Regions from separate parts of the Homo sapiens genome. Here region 1 is linked to region 2. The links come from fine-mapping of genetic effects on gene expression. Tissue or cell type: whole blood. Region 2 holds a variant in brackets; the other region holds the start of a gene. All regions are shown on one strand. Distances are between the middles of the regions.

What was found. PIP is the estimated chance that this variant, and not a neighbour inherited with it, causes the effect.
Region 1: MYBL2 starts here. The variant in region 2 is fine-mapped to the expression of MYBL2 in whole blood (INTERVAL, PIP above 0.99).

The regions. Positions count from the first base shown.
Region 1 is chr20:43,662,492-43,670,579 of GRCh38, forward strand. It overlaps MYBL2 (MYB proto-oncogene like 2), which reads left to right and starts at 4,623. Exons shown (of 14, transcript NM_002466.4): 1 at 4,623-4,812. The coding sequence starts at 4,793. RefSeq lists silencers at 4,418-4,712, 4,449-4,828 and enhancers at 4,418-4,712, 5,479-5,528.
Region 2 is chr20:43,599,260-43,607,364 of GRCh38, forward strand. It overlaps IFT52 (intraflagellar transport 52), which reads left to right. Exons shown (of 14, transcript NM_016004.5): 4 at 4,501-4,630; 5 at 4,924-4,999; 6 at 5,743-5,814. Among named protein-coding and RNA genes, the nearest start is that of IFT52, 12 kb to the left of the region's middle. The variant G/T (reference allele first, on the strand shown) is at 3,933.

The DNA of each region.
Region 1 (8,088 bases), 63 kb after region 2:
TTTGAGACAGAGTCTTGCTCTGTCACCCAGGCTGGAGTGCAGTGGCACAGTTTGGGCTCACGGCAACCTCCTCCTCCTGGGTTCAAGTGATTCTCATGCCTCATCCTCCTGAGTAGCTGAGACTGCAGGTTTGTGCCACCATGCCCAGGTAATTTTTGTATTTTTAGTAGATATGGGGTTTCACCATGTTGGCCAGGCTGGTCTCAAAGTCCTGACCTCAAAGTAATTTGCCTGCCTTGGCCTTCTAAAGTGCTGGGATTACGGGCATGACCACTGTGCCCAGCCTGAATCTCTTTTGATGACCCATATTTTATGAGATACAATTCAAACTCTAGCATTCCCAGCTTTCTCACTTGAGGTCCAAGCCTTTCTAACTCTCCAGCCCAAATGTTAGCTTTGTAACATTGCATCCACTCAATTTAAATGGAATGTGTAGAACCCCTTCCATGAGTACCTACCAGAAGCCAAGCTATAGTAAAGGTCTGAAGCTTAAAATGTGCACAGGCTGTCCTTTCTCTTGAGAGAGAAATAAAATGGTGGAGGAAGTGTGATGAGGACAAGAATGATAAGGAGGATGCTCTGGAGGTGGAGGGGGAAGACTCCAGCCAGAAGGGCCATGTGATTCTACTTATCATCAATTAGTGTTTGGTGTCCAAGCTGGTGCTGAGCCCTGAGCATTTAATAAATTGATTTGACCCTTATCTTCCCAACACAGGGTCAGGCCTGGGGGTTGGGGCAAATTGTGGAATAACCAAATACCTGGAGCCTCCCTGTCCAAGGAGGGCGTGTTCAGGAAAAGTTTCCCAGCAGAGATAAATTCTGTATGTTACTAGTCCAGAGTCCAGGGACCACTCCCAGGTGTGGTTTCACTCGGGACACTGGGAATCCTCTCTCCAGGGGATATCTGTTGGTATGATGATAACTGGAGAGGAAATGTGTGGAGATCATCAGATTCCATCTGGCACTAGGGTGATCTCCCTGCTGCCTGACTCACAGCACTGACTCCAGGCTTCTTTGGCTCTGGGGCATTGGTTAACTGGCCCCAGTTCCAGGTTGCAAGTGCACTCTGCAGCTGTTCCCTGCCTCTTGCTTTGGGCAGATACCTTGCCCAAGCTGTCAGGTCCTGCCTCTCCCTGAAATGGGATGACTAATGTGTGGACCTCAAAGGATAAGAGTGAGGGCAGCTGAAGAATTACAGTAGTAATAATAGCTAACAGTAATATAGTTCTTTTTTTGCTGGGCGCGGTGGCTCACGCCTGTAATCCTAGCACTTTGGGAGGCCGAGGTGGGTGGATTGCCTGAGATCAGGAGTTTGAGACCAGCCTGGGGAACATGGTGAAACCCCGATCTCTATTAAAATACAAAAAATTAGCCAGGCGTGGCGGAGTGCTTCTGTAACCCCAGCTACTCGGGAGGCTGGGGTTATTGAGACGGAGTCTTGCTCTGTTGCCAAGGCTGGAGTGCAGTGGCACGATCTCAGCTCACTGCAACCTCCGCCTCCAGGTTCAAGTGATTCTCCTGCCTCAGCCTCCTGAGTAGCTGGAGTTACAGGTGCATGCCGCCACGCCCGGCTAATATTTTATATTTTTAGTAGAGATGGGGTTTCACCATGTTGGCCAAGCTGGTCTCAAACTCCTGACCTTAGGTGACTCACTCGCCTCAGCTTCCCAAACTGCTGGGATTACAGGCATGAGCCACTGTGCCCGGCCAATATAGCTCTCATTATGTGCCAGGAACTGTTTTTGGTGCTTTACACATATTAATTTATTTAATCCTATAATTACCTACAAAGTATAGTGATTAAGAGCATAGACTCTAGAACTAGACAGGCCAGGTTTGAATCCCTGCTCTGCCATTTACTAGCACTGTGACCTTGGGGAAGTCTGTGCCTCAGTTTTCCCATCTGCTAAAAGAGGATAATCCCAGTATCTACCTCATAGAGTTGTTACAAGGATTAAATGAGTTACAATTTATAAACAGAATGCTGGCTGGAAATATTAGCTGGGCATGGCGGCGTGCTCCTGTAACCCCAGTTACTTGGGAGGCTGATAGTTTAAAAACTATCTAAAATTTTGATAAATCCCATTTTTCCAGGTGAGAAAACTGAGGCACAGAAGAGTTAGGTAATTGGCTGGGCATGATGGCTCATGCCTGTAATCCCAGCACTTTGGGAGTCTGAGTCGGGTAGATCACCTGAGGTCAGAAGTTCAAGACCAGCCTGGCCAACATGATGAAAACCCATCTCTACAAAAATACAAAAAATAGCCAGGCATGCTGGCGCATTCCTGTAGTCCTAGCTACTCGAGAGGCTGAGGTGGGAGAATCATTTGAATCCGGGAAGTGGGGGTTGCAGTGAGCCAAGATCACACCACTGCACTCCAGTCTGGGCAATAAAGCAAGACTTGGTCTAAAAAAAAAAAAAAAGTTAAGTAATTTGCCTAAGATACCGCAACTGAATGGTGGAGCTGGGACTCAAACCCCAGGAAGTTTGGCTGTGGAGGCTGTGCTTTCAATGAAGTGGGCATGTCCACATTAATTACTTTATAAGGGGAGTGGGCGGGAGAAACCCTGAATTAAGTGATGTGGAAGCTTCTAGCACTTAAGATGTGAGTTAGTCTTCCTTCTGTGGTAAGTGAAGTTTGCAGCAGCTGGTGGCTGGACTGTCCCCAGGTGGCCAGCAGCTTCTGGAAGGGGGCTCTGAGGCCTGAACAGGGGCTAAAAGGCTGGGGTTTGATTTGGTTTCTTCAGCGTCCTGTCTCAGAGCTCATTTATCTTCCTCTCAGCACTGCTCCCAGGAAGTCCAGTGTGACTTGATCCTTGGTACTTGGTAAATGTCAATCTAATATAGAAAACCTTTGCTAAATCTCAAGGAAAGACAGTCTCACTGTCTGTCGCCCAGGCTGGAGTGCAGTGGCGGGATGACAAGGGCTTGAGCCCCTCGAACTCCTGGGCTCAAGCAATCCTCCTGCCTCTGCTTCCCAAGTAGCTGGGATTACAGGCATTCACCACCACAGCCAGGTAATTTCTTAATTTTTTGTAAAGACAGGGTCTCACTCTGATCCCCAGGCTGGTCTCAAACTTTTGGACTGAATCAGTTCTCCCACCTCGGCCTCCCAAACTGCTAGGATTACTGGCATGAGCCACTAAATCTGGGCTAATCTCTGGGAGTTTAAACCCAAGGTAAACAATTCAATGCAACAAACCTTTGCCTGGGGCTTCTTATGTCAGGTCTTCTACTGGGCCCTGGAGATACTGGTGTGCATTGAGAGGCCACCTGGACCTCAGGATGCTCCCAGTTCAAAGGGGGAAATGCAGAAGTCTACAGGCAGATTGTGGGCAGTGGACCCCAAATTAAATAGGAATCAGCCACGTGGGAGGGGCAGGAAGTGTTCCTGCCCTGGGTAATGGCTCAGGCAAAGGCAAAGAGGCCGTTTCTTTTGGCCAGGGCTGGGTGGTGGTCTGGAAGATCAGATAAATGTGATTGTGGAGTAAGGAATTTACCCTGAGGGAGAGGAGGATGGTTTTAAATTCTGGAAAGAGCTCACGCCTGCAATCCCAGCACTTTGGGAGGACAAAGCGGCAGGATCTCTTGAGCCCAGGAGTTTCTAGACCAGTCTAGGCAACAGCAACATAGCAAGACACCCCCTTCTCTTAAAAAAAAAAAAAAAAGCGCAGTGGCTCACTCCTGTAATTCCAGCACTTTGGGAGGCCGAGGCGGGCGGATCACGAGGTCAGGAGACCTATACCATCCTGGCCAACATGGTGAAACCTCGTCTCTACTAAAATACTAAAAAAAAAAAAAAAAAAAAAAAAAAATTGCCGGGCGTGGTGGTGTGCGCCTGTAGTTCCAGCTACTTGGGAGGCTGAGGCGGGGGAGTCGCTTGAACCCGGGAGGTGGAGGTTGCAGTGAGTCAAGATCGCGCCACTGCACTCCAGCCTGGCGACAAAGCGAGACACCGTCTCAAAAAAAAAAAAAAAAAAAATCAGCCGGGTGTAGTGGCGAGTGCCTGGTCTTAGCTACCCGTGAGTTGAGGTAGGAGGATCGCTTGAGCCTAGGAGGTGGAGGTTGCAGTGAGCTATGATCGCGAAACTGCACTCCAGCCTGGGCGACAGAGCAAGACCCTGCCTCTAAGAAAAATGAACAACAAAAAATAAAGTCTATTAAGGAGGGTCTCTTGGAGGCAGGAGAGGAAGCAGGGAGAGGCACAGGTAGGGTGAGGAGCCGCTTTAGGGTGCGGCTCTAGGGACCCAGTAGTGGCTTGGACTAGCGTGGGGGATTCCGCCCTGGCGCTTTCCCTGGCTGGCTCTCCCATGCTCGCGCCTCGCTCCCCTTCCTCGGTCTTCGCTATGTGGGATACTCCTGGGCCGCCCCGGACTGACACGTGAGCCAGGCCTCGGTCACATCCCGGCCCGCTCCACAACTCCGAAGTAGCGGCCGCCGCCCCTGTCCTGCAGCCGGCCCTGGAGGGTCTGGGCAGGTGCCGCCCCGCAGGCCCCGCCCCGCCCCGCCCCCTGGCTCCGCCCCTCACTCAGGCCCCTCCCCCGGCGCCCGCGCGCCAGGACTGGGCGGCGCCGACGCGCTTGGCGGGAGATAGAAAAGTGCTTCAACCCGCGCCGGCGGCGACTGCAGTTCCTGCGAGCGAGGAGCGCGGGACCTGCTGACACGCTGACGCCTTCGAGCGCGGCCCGGGGCCCGGAGCGGCCGGAGCAGCCCGGGTCCTGACCCCGGCCCGGCTCCCGCTCCGGGCTCTGCCGGCGGGCGGGCGAGCGCGGCGCGGTCCGGGCCGGGGGGATGTCTCGGCGGACGCGCTGGTGAGACGAGCCGGGAGGGCTTGGGCCCCTCCCCCTCCCTTTAACTCACCCCTCCCCCACCCAGATACCCCCGACCCTCCCCAGGCTCCCACCAAGCTGGGGTGTGTGTGTGTGTTGGGGGTGGGGTGTTTCCGCGGAAATGCTGCGTCCTGGGCCCTCTGAGGCAGGGGCGCGCGTAAAGCTGGGGGGCTCTTGGGCGTCCCTCGCGGCTCCCCAGGCCTGTTGGGCCTCGGAGCTGGGACGGGCGGGTCTCTTGGGACCCGGGCCAAGCCGTGCATGATGTCATTTTGTCTCCCGCCTAATTGCGGGATGGGGGTGGGCCGGCCGGTGTCAGCTGGCAGGGCCTTCGCCGGCGAGGGAGGCGACCCCTGGGAGCGAGAGGGAGTCTTCAAGTCCCAGCCAGTGGGAGACCGAGCCTGGGAGGCACTTGTTGCAGCCTAGTTTTGGGTCAACTTGGTGGGTGGGCTTTGCTCCTTAACATTCCGGGGAGCACAGAGTCCCCCAAGCCCTCTCCCCTGGACTGAGAAGGGTGCTGAGTTGGGGGCTCTTTTGTCTCTCCCACCTGGGTTCCGCGCCCCAGCTTGGTTCGGTTTGAGACCTCTCTTCCTGTTCCCACGAGGAGTTTTGGGCAGCTGGGGTTGAAGGTGCGGGGGAGAGAGAGAGTCCCTGGGGCAAAGGCAGGAACTGCGGTCTCCATTTTACTTATTTCCCCAGAGACTTAAGTGGCAGAGCTGAGCCCGGAGCCAGGTCTGTGGCTCCAGATCCCTGTCTTACACCTGTGCGCCTGGGGCCTGAGCTCCAAGCTTTTCAGCCTGCCTGGGAGACAGGACAGTGGGGTCCTGACCTCTTCCCTGCCTGGATCGCTGCAGCTCAGATAACCTTCGTTCCCTCTTTTTTTTTTTTTTTTTTTTTTTTGAGAAGGAGTCTCGCTCTGATGCCCAGGCTGGAGTGCAGTGGCGCGATCTTGGCTCACTGCAACCTCCGCCTCCCAGGTTCAAGCGATTCTCCTGCCTCAGCTTCCCGAGTAGCTGGGACTTCAGGCACGTGTCACCACGTCGGGCTAATTTTTTGTATGTTTAGTAGAGACAGGGTTTCACCATGTTAGCCAGGATGGTCTCGATCTCCTGACCTTGTGTTCCGCCCGACTCGGCCTCCCAAAGTGCTGGGATTACAGGCGTGAGCCACCTTGCCCGGCCAAACTTCGGTCCCTCTTTAGACGATAGCCTCATCTAAAGATGAAGCCTTCCATCCCTCTAGATTTTTGCCCTTTCAGGCTGAGGATAGGGATCTGAGCACAGGGACTGTGTTCCTCAGGCCCCACTTTCCCAGGCCAATGTCCAGGAAGAGTTTTCTGTTCAGGCGCCTATCAGACCCTGCCCTGGTTTTTTTTTTTTTTTTTTTTGAGGCAGGGTCTCCGTCTGCAGTCCAGGCCGGAGTGCTGTGGTGCTGTCATAGCTCACTGTAGCCCCAACCTCCCAGGTTCAAGTGATCTTCCCAACTCAGCCCGCTGGGACTGCAGGCTGAGTAGCTGGGACTATGGGCACGGGCCGCCACAACTGGCTAATTTATTTAATTATTTAGGAGACAGAGCCACTCTGTGTTGCCCAGGCTGGAGTGCAGTGGCACAATCTCGGCTCACTGCAGCCTCTGCCTCCCGGGTTCAAGGAATTCTGTCTCAGCCTCCCAAGTACCTGGGACTATGGGCACACGCCGCCACGCCTGGCTAATTTTTTGGATTTTTAGTAGAGATGGGTTTCACTGTGTTGCTCAGGCAATCCGCCTGCCTTGGCCTCACAGAGTGCTAGGATTACAGGCGTGAGCCACCGCGTCTGGCGTGTTTTATTTTGTGTAGAGATGGAAGGGGGCGGGAGTGGCCTCGCGTTGTGTCTCACCTCACTATGTTACCCAGGCTGGTCTCGAACTCCTGGCTTCCAGGGATTCTCCCCCACTTGGCCTCCCAAAGTGTCGGGATTACAGGTGTGAGCCACCTTGCCTGGCGCCATCCTGATTTTTTGTTCAGGAAGAGTTATTCCAGGAGTGACTGCCTCTAGACCACCCCAGGTCCTGGGCTACTTCTCCCATGAGGGGCTCAGTGGAGGAACCCCTCCTGTGTGAAGGATGGCAGCTCCACAGCCCTCAGCCCATTTCCTGGCCACTTGCTGTAACTCTCCTCTGCCCTAGTGCCCCACTTCCCGCTTTGTCTCTGACTCACCCCTGTCCTGGAGCAGAGCCCAGCACGTTGAAGGGCAAAAGGTAGGGTATGTTGGACCACAATGTGGTTGCCACCACTAACTGGACTCTGCTTTTTCAGCTGGGATTAGGATATGAGGACTTGCAGGTGTCTGGAGTTAGGAAGGTTCAGAGCCTGGCTCTATGAACTTGGCAGGTGGCCTCACCCCTCTGAGCCTCAATTTCCGCATCTGTTAAGGGGGATAATGAGAATGTGGGTGAAGTTGATGGCCAGCACATATGGTAAAGTATATCATCTCACAGAAATGCCCCAGCTGTCTGAGATGCTGACCCTATCAAACAGCATTGGAGGCTGGGTGTGGTAGCTCATGCCTGTAATCCCAGCACTTTGGGAGGCCAAGAGTTCAAGACCAGCTTGACCAATATGGTGAAACTCCTCGTCTCTACCAAAAATACAAAAATTAGCCGGGCGTGGTGGTAGGCGCCTGTAAGCGCGGCTATTCGGGAGGCTGAGGCAGGAGAATTCACTTGAACCCAGGAGGCAGAGGTTGCTGTGAGTCGAGATCATGCCACTGCACTTCAGCCTGGGTGACAAAGCGAGACTCTATCTCAAAATAAACAAACAAACAAACAAACAGCATTGGAGCACCAGGGAGTGTCCATGCAGACATCATTTCATCCTTGAAAGAATATTTGCTGACCTTCTGTTAGAAGCCAGGCCTTTGTGCTGGATGCTGGAGAAGCAAAGATGGTTTCTGTCACGAGCTGTCTGGGGGCAGTTGATTTTAAAGCCAACTTCATTCTGTTATTAGTATCTTCTGGATTTTTGCCTTCTATATTGAAGTGGTGGAGGACCCATGAACTGGGTCAGGAATGAATTCCAGATCCTTCTGTATTGCTGACTGTAGACACCGTCCCTCCTTTCCTATTTCTGAAAATTTTTTTCTTTTGAAATTGGGTCTTGCCTGGCCTAAAAAATTTAATTAGTATTTCTTATTGACTAATAGGCAGCAGCTTTGCACATTTTTTCATTTATTTGTATATTCAGTCAGTCCCTGGGCAAACATTTCTTAAGCCCTTTTGGTG
Region 2 (8,105 bases):
TGTTTGCCAGGGACCAACCAGCCTCAGGAACACAGGGGCATCCAAAGAGAGGGTCAGAACCTGGTGCCTGGGCCTTTTCCCAAGTGGAGATGGGTGCCAGGCCAAGCCTTAGTTTGGGCTTCCAGGCATGGTAGGCTGATGCATCCAAGAGACACAAGTCCTTCGAGAGGCAAATTTGATGTAACTTTAGCCTAATAAAACGTCCTCTCCCAGACCAGTCCCTGACACCATACCTTCTCTTTAGAGTTGGAGTGAGGTGGGAAGAAAAGGGAAAAAAGCTGTTAGCTTTTTTTCTAGGAATCAGCATTCCTTTGTGTTACAGTTCTTCCAATGGGCTCATGCTTGTGAGATCACTGCTTTCCTTGTCATTGCTGCTGGCCTCCTAGACTGTTACCCCTGGAGAGCTGTGTGATGCCTTTTTCATGTTGACTTCCAGAAACTTCTGTGACAGGACAGACATCATATGTCTGATATTAGATGCTAGTATCATGCTAGAAACTAGGCTGAACAGTCTTTCCTTATTTCCACCTCAACTACATTGACGCATTACACTAGCTTTGTGGTGGTATTCAGTTACGACCAGGTAACCACGTGGCTGAGACGAGTATTTTCCAACCCTAACAGACCAGCATCCACCTATATTACAGATGCCAACTTTGTTACCCTGAATTGAAATGCAAAGATAATCTAACCCACCACCATTAAAAAAGTAAAGCAATATAACTTCCTAACTTTAATGTACAGAAATTAAAGGATGATTTATAAAAGAATATGTGTATTTCAAATTGTAAATGTTTATGCATATATATACTAGAAGAATATACATATTTCAGTTTGTTAATGCTTGGTCATACATGCATTAGAACACTTCTTTATGTTTGACATTTTGAAATAAATGTTTAATAAGTATGTAGAACTCCGATGAATGGGATAGGTACATATGCAGACTGGTGGAAGTGATGTATTGGCAATTCAAATCATGAGCCGTGTTGCTGTCGGTGATGTGATTTTTCCAAAATACTGACTAACTCTTGGTAAAGTTCTATTTTTTTTTTTTTTTCCTGAGACGGAGTCTTGCTCTGTCACCCAGGCTGGAGTGCAGTGGAGTGATCTCAGCTCACTGCAAGCTCCGCCTCCCGGGTTCACGCCATTCTCCTGCCTCAGCCTTCCGAGTAGGTGGTACTACAGGTGCCCACCACCACGCCCGGCTAATTTTTTGTATTTTTAGTAGAGATGGGGTTTCACCGTGTTAGCCAGGGTGATCTCGATCTCCTGGCCTTGTGATCCGCCCGCCTTGGCCTCTGGTAAAGTTCTGTTAATAAAAAGAGTATAATTCTTCTCTCAGTTTACATGGTAGTTGGGTACCTCCGAATTCAGTATATGTTAAATCGTGCAAAAAATACTTTGTACAGTATTTACATAGAATTTGAGCTGGGCGCAGTAGCTTACTCCTGTAATCCCAGGAGTTTGGGAGGCCGAGGCGGGTGGAACACCAGACGTCAGGAGTTTGAGACTAGCCTGGCCAACATGGTGAAACCTTGTCTCTACTGAAAATACAAAAATTAGCCAGGTGTGGTGGCAGGCTCCTGTAGTCACAACTACTCAGGAGGCTGAGGCAGGAGAATCACTTGAACCCAGGAGGCGAAGTTTGCAGTGAGCCGAGATCGAGCCACTGCAGCATGGGTGACAGAGCAAGACTTCATCTCAAAAAAAATAAAGAAATTGGAGTTAGATTTTAGGCTGAGCTTCTTTTGTTTGTTTGCTTTTTCTTTTTTAAACCTCCGTGACTATCTGAGAAGATATTCAAATGCTGTGGAATAGTTCTTTACTGTGTGGGACTGGTCTGAATATTGCAGGACCTTAACTTCCCTGCCCTTCACCCGCTAAAATGTCCTTAAACATTAATATTATGGCATTAATATTTTGCCATATTAATATTAATATTATGGTGATCCAGAATACATGCTAGATGGTTTAAATGCCTCCACTGAGAGCCACTGGCCTGGATCATCCAGTCTCGATTACAGGAAATACCTCACATTTGCTGCCACACTAACAGTGTGAATGCATTCTAAGCCAATTTCTAAAATTCAAGTCTGCAAAATTAATCTTTCTTCCTGTTTTTGCCATAAAGAAATAAGAAACCTCCAGTTTGTACCAAATATCCATTCTTTTGTTAGAAGGGTCTCACTTACGTGTATAGCTGGAAACTGGGTCATAATTCATGTAAGCTCCTTCAACTTTTGCCCACCTGTGTTATTGCACACCACATCCTTCATGTATCTTTTTCTTAAAATGCCAGATGGCCAATAGGACACAGTAGATACCAATAACTACTATATACTCATTGCATTTAGGCAACATGGACAAATCCCAGAACCACATAATCATGAAAACCAAGTCCCAGTAGAATTTCCCAAGCAAAAGCTATGTTCTGAGAATATATATTGCAAACTAGACCTGGCTTGCTATTATCAGTCATAGAACATAGCATATATTTAGGGCTGTCTGGGAAGAGGAGTTTGAGAGGAAATCAAAAGGAAGGAAAAGGAAGATGAATTTAGGGAGAGATTCAGTCTGTTGTTCAGGGTCCAGGATCATGCAGTTATAACCCATTTGTTTTGTTTTTCTGTTGTTGTTCCAAAAAATGTTTACTAAGGATCTGTTACACACCTAGTAACAGGTCCTAGGACTAACGCTAGGGATCAAAGTCAAATAGCACATGATCTCTCCACTCAAGGAACCGATAGTCTAGGGGAAATGACACAAATGGACCATCTACCAATAATGATCAATGTTCTAAGTTCCACATTTCTACAGAAACACAGAAAAGAGGCATTGGATTATTGGGTCCAGAGGAAATGGACTTTGAGCTGATTTTTATTTTATTTATTTATTTATTTATTTATTTATTTATTTATTTTGAGACAGAGTCTTGCTCTGTCGCCAGGCTGGAGTGCATTGGCGCATTCTCGGCTCATTGCAACCTCCGCCTCCCAGGTTCAACTGATTCTCCTGCCTCAGCCTCCCGAGTAGCGGGGATTACAGGCATCTGCCCCCACACCTGGCTATTTGTATTTTTAGTAGACACGGGGTTTCACCATGTTGGCCAGGCTGGTCTCGAGCTCCTGACCTCAAGTGATCCACCCACCTCAGCCTCCCAAACTGTTGGGATTACAGGCATGAGCCACTGCACCCCGCCTTAATTTTGATTTTGAAATAATTCATTTTTTATTTTGTTTTGTTTTTTTGTTGTGTTTCGTTTTTGAGATGGAATCTTGCTCTGTTGCCCAGGCTGGAATGCAGTGGTGCAATCTCGGCTCACTGCAACCTCCACCACCTGGGTTCAAGCAATTCCCCTCCCTCAACCTTCCAAGTAGCTGGGGCTACGGGTGCATACCACCACGCCTGGCTAATTTTTGCATTTTTAGTAGAGACGGGGGTTTCACCATGTTGGCCAAGCTGGTCTCGAACTCCTCACCTCAAGTGATCCGCCTACCTTGGCCTCTGAAGATTCATTTGTTTTATACAGTGTGGGGAAGGCAGGGGGAGAGGAAAATTCAGGGAGCATACAAGAGCGAGAGGGCCGTGCTGTGGCAAATCTAGTCTGGGCAGTAGTTTCCAAAGTAGGATGCATGTGATGAATCAGTGGGGTGCCAAAAGGAAATTATGTTTATTATTCATATTTTCATTACCCTTAAAACATTTCCTTTTTGGGAGTTGTTTTGAATTATAAAGTACATATTTTATATAGAGATACATACATATTGAATGTATTTATATACATGTTCAGATTTTTTTCTGCTGGAGTGCTTGATGAAGAAAGTTGAGAAACTATTTGTCTGGACCACCCACCCCAGATTTTCTCAGGCTAGACCAGCAAGATCAACCCTAGATTTTTCTCCCTTCCCCAGCTTTGTGAAAATGAGAGA[G/T]CTTCCAGGAGATAAGCAGAAAACATGCGTTTCTCTCTATGGTTTGGTTGGTCAATGACCTTGAACAGAATTCCTCCCAGGTGTGGTATGAAATGACTTCATCCTGATATCCTCTGTGGGCAGTCAAGAGAAGGCATTGTCTAAATCAGTGGTTCTTAACTAGGGGTGATTCTATTTCTTCTTCTCCTGAGGGAACATGTGGCAATCTCAAGAGACATTTTTGGTTGCCAGGGGAAGGTAGGTACAACTGGCATCTAGTAGGTGGAGACCAGGGGTGCTGCTGAATGGAGAACTGAGTGCTTCCTTTAGTTAAGTTTTTCACTTTTGACTTGCTCTCTAGATAGTCAGCTTTGAAATTGTCAATTTACTTTGAGTATTTTGGAGCTTTATGCTCAAAGACAAGCTTGGAGATCCTACATAGAGAGTACTTTTTATCTTATATACATTTATATGTAAATGCCTTATAGATTTGAAATATGTATTTTTCATCTAGTTAAGGTCTTATTCATGGTATTTCGGGCAAAAGTCTTTCAAGTATATTCATAGATTGCTTTTTTCCTTTGTGTAGTTTGAAATCCTGAAGAAATATCTTGACACTGGTGGAGATGTCTTTGTGATGCTAGGAGAAGGTGGAGAATCCAGATTTGACACCAATATTAACTTTTTACTAGAAGAATATGGAATCATGGTTAATAATGGTAATTAGTATTATTATTTTCAGTAGAGGCAGTACTTTTCTATCTATTATTTGATATCATAGCCCTCTAGGTCCAGTGGCATAATGGAAAAAGCCCTGGGCTGTGTGTGCGTGTTTTAATGTTCCATTCTCATCAGCAGTCTGAGCCTCCTAGGCTTGGGCTGCTTCCATTTATAAAGCGAGATGGATTGGAACCAAGTTCCAGGGTGCCCTTCAGGTCAAAATTGGTATGAGTCTATAATATCGAATTTATTTCTAACCTAAAATATACCTCCTTCTCTTTTTCCCTCATAGATGCTGTGGTTAGAAATGTATATCACAAATATTTCCATCCTAAAGAAGCTCTAGTTTCCAGTGGAGTCTTGAACAGGTAAGCATGTTGAAAGCAGAAATATCTTGGCAAGGCATCGTCGCTCACACCTGTAATCCCAGCACTTTGGGAAGCCAAGGTGGATGGATCATTTTGAGGTCAGGAGTTCCAAACCAGCCTGGCCAACATGGTGAAACCCCATCTCCCTGTCTAAAAATACAAAAAAAATTAGCCAGGCATTGTAGCAGGCGCCTGTAATCCCAGCTACTCGGGAGGCTGAGGCAGGAGAATCACTTGAGCCCGGGAAGCAGAGGTTGCATTGAGCTGAGATTGCACCATTGTACTCTGGCCTGGCTGACAGAGCGAGACTTCATCTCAAAAAAAAAATAAAGCAGAAATATCCTTACACATAACTCTCATTTCTTCTACATAAATCTTCCCTCGTCTCTTCTCATACATTCTTTTCACTGCCCTTTCTTCTTTCTTGCCTTTTTGTTTTGTGTTATTATAATTTATTTTACTATATTACTACTACTCATTCATCAAATTATTTTTCTTCATCTTTTGAAACTTACTTCACATTCAATTTATTTTTTGTTTATATATATATGTATTTTTTGAGACAGAGTCTTGCTCTGTTGCTCAGGCTGGAATGCAGTGGTGGGAACACAGTTCACTGCAGCCTTGACCTCCCAGGCTTAAGCAATCCTCCCACCTTAGCCTCATACTTGCTGTACTAATGAATGCAGTGTGAAATTCTCAAATTTTTTTTGTTTACTAGATTTTAATTTTTCTTCTTCAAGGGAAATTAGCCGAGCTGCAGGAAAGGCTGTGCCTGGGATCATTGATGAGGAAAGCAGTGGAAACAATGCCCAGTGAGTGTGTTTTCTGATGCCACATGAGGAAGATGTATCATTTTGGAGTCTTCTTTTTCAAAATGAAAAGAGCTTTTGTTTCTGGTTACAAAAATAATCAGAATTTGAACAGTTCAAGAGGAAAAAAGTAGAAGCTCTGCACTGTAAGTCCATGCTCCTCCCCCTGAAGGTAGTCTTAATATAGTATTTAGGCCCAGCATGGTGGCTCACGCCTGTAATCCTAGCACTTTTGGGAGGCCGAGGTGGGTGGCCCACCTGAGGTCAGGAGTTAGAGACAAGTGTAACCAACATGGCAAAATCCCATCTCTACTAAAAATACAAAAATTAGCCAGGCGTGGTGGTGTGCACCTGTAGTCCCAGCTACTCGGGAGGCTGAGACAGGAGAACTGTTTGAACCCCGGAGGCGGAAGTTGCAGTGAGCCAAGATTACGCCACTGCACTCCAGCCTGGGCAACAGAGCAAGACTCCATCTCAAAAAATATATAGTATGGTATTTAGATTTCTAGGTTTTTTTTTTTCCATGTATAAAGTTATAGGTGAGTACCTCTTCATTTTTAATGACTGGATTAAATTGGATATATCCCAGTTTATCTAACCAACTCCCTATTATTGGACATTTAAGTAGTTTATAATGTTTTTCTTTAATAATACCACCTAATGTTTGTCAAGCATCGACTGTGTGACAGGCATGTATTACCTCATTTAATCCTTACAACTCTGGAAAGTTAGAGATGAGATACAGAGATGTAATTGCCCAAATGCACATGACTACTCTGTGTCAGAACTTAGATGCAAACATAGGCAGTCTATTCTAGAGCCTGCACTCTTAACTTCTGTTCCGTATTGTTGTTATAGACAATTTTATAGCCGGGTGTGGTAGCTCACTCCTGTAATTGCAGCACTTTGGGTGGCCAAGGCGAGTGGATCACCTGAGGTCACGAGTTTGAAACCAGCCTGGCTAACATGGCGAAACCCCGTCTTTACTAAAAATAGAAAATTTAGCTGTGCGTGGTAGTGGGCGCCTATAATCCCAGCTACTGGGGAGGTTGAGGCAGGAGAATCACTTGAACCTGGGAGGTGGAGGTTGCATTGAGCTGCCATCGTACCATTGCACTCTAGCCTGGGGGACAGATGGAGACTTCGTCTAAAAAAAAAAAAATTATATTTGTCATTATAGATAATAAAGCACAAATGAACATCTTTTTTTTTTTTTTTTTTGAGATGGAGTCTCACTCTGTCACCCAGGCTGGAGTGCAGTGGCATGATCTCAGCTCACTGCAACCTCCGCCTCCCAGGTTCAAGTGGTTCTCCTGCCTCAGCCTCCCATGTAGCTGGGATTACAGGCATCTGCCACCACACCCAGCTAATTTCTCTATTTTTAGTAGAGATGGGGTTTCACCATGTTGGTCAGGCTGGTCTTGAACTCCTGACCTCAGGTGATCCACCTGCCTCGGCCTCCCAAAGTGCTGGGATAAGTGAACATCTTTGTATGTACAGTTTTGTGCACTTGTGGTAGTATTTTTTTTTTTTTAATTGATCATTCTTGGGTGTTTCTCGCAGAGGGGGATTTGGCAGGGTCATAGGACAATAGTGGAGGGAAGGTCAGCAGATAAACAAGTGAACAAAGGTCTCTGGTTTTCCTAGGCAGAGGACCCTGCAGCCTTCCGCAGTGTTTGTGTCCCTGGGTACTTGAGATTAGGGAGTGGTGATGACTCTTAACGAGCATGCTGCCTTCAGGCATCTGTTTGACAAAGCACATCTTGCACCGCCCTTAATCCATTTAACCCTGAGTGGACACAGCACATGTTTCAGAGAGCACAGGGTTGGGGGTAAGGTCACAGATCAACAGGATCCCAAGGCAGAATTTTTCTTAGTACAGAACAAAATGAAAAGTCTCCCGTGTCTACTTCTTTCTACACAGACACAGCAACCATCCGATTTCTCAATCTTTTCCCCACCTTTCCCCTCTTTCTATTCCACAAAACCGCCATTGTCATCATGGCCCGTTCTCAATGAGCTGTTGGGTACACCTCCCAGACTGGGTGGTTGCCAGGCAGAGGGGCTCCTCACTTCCCAGTAGGGGCAGCCGGGCAGAGGCGCCCCTCACCTCCTGGATGGGGCGGCTGGCCGGGCGGGGGGCTGACCCCCCCACCTCCCTCCCGGACGGGGCGGCTGGCCGGGCGGGGGGCTGACCCCCCCACCTCCCTCCCGGACGGGGCGGCTGGCCTGGCGGGGGCTGACCCCCACCTCCCTCCCGGACTGGGTGGCTGCCGGGCGGAGACGCTCCTCAC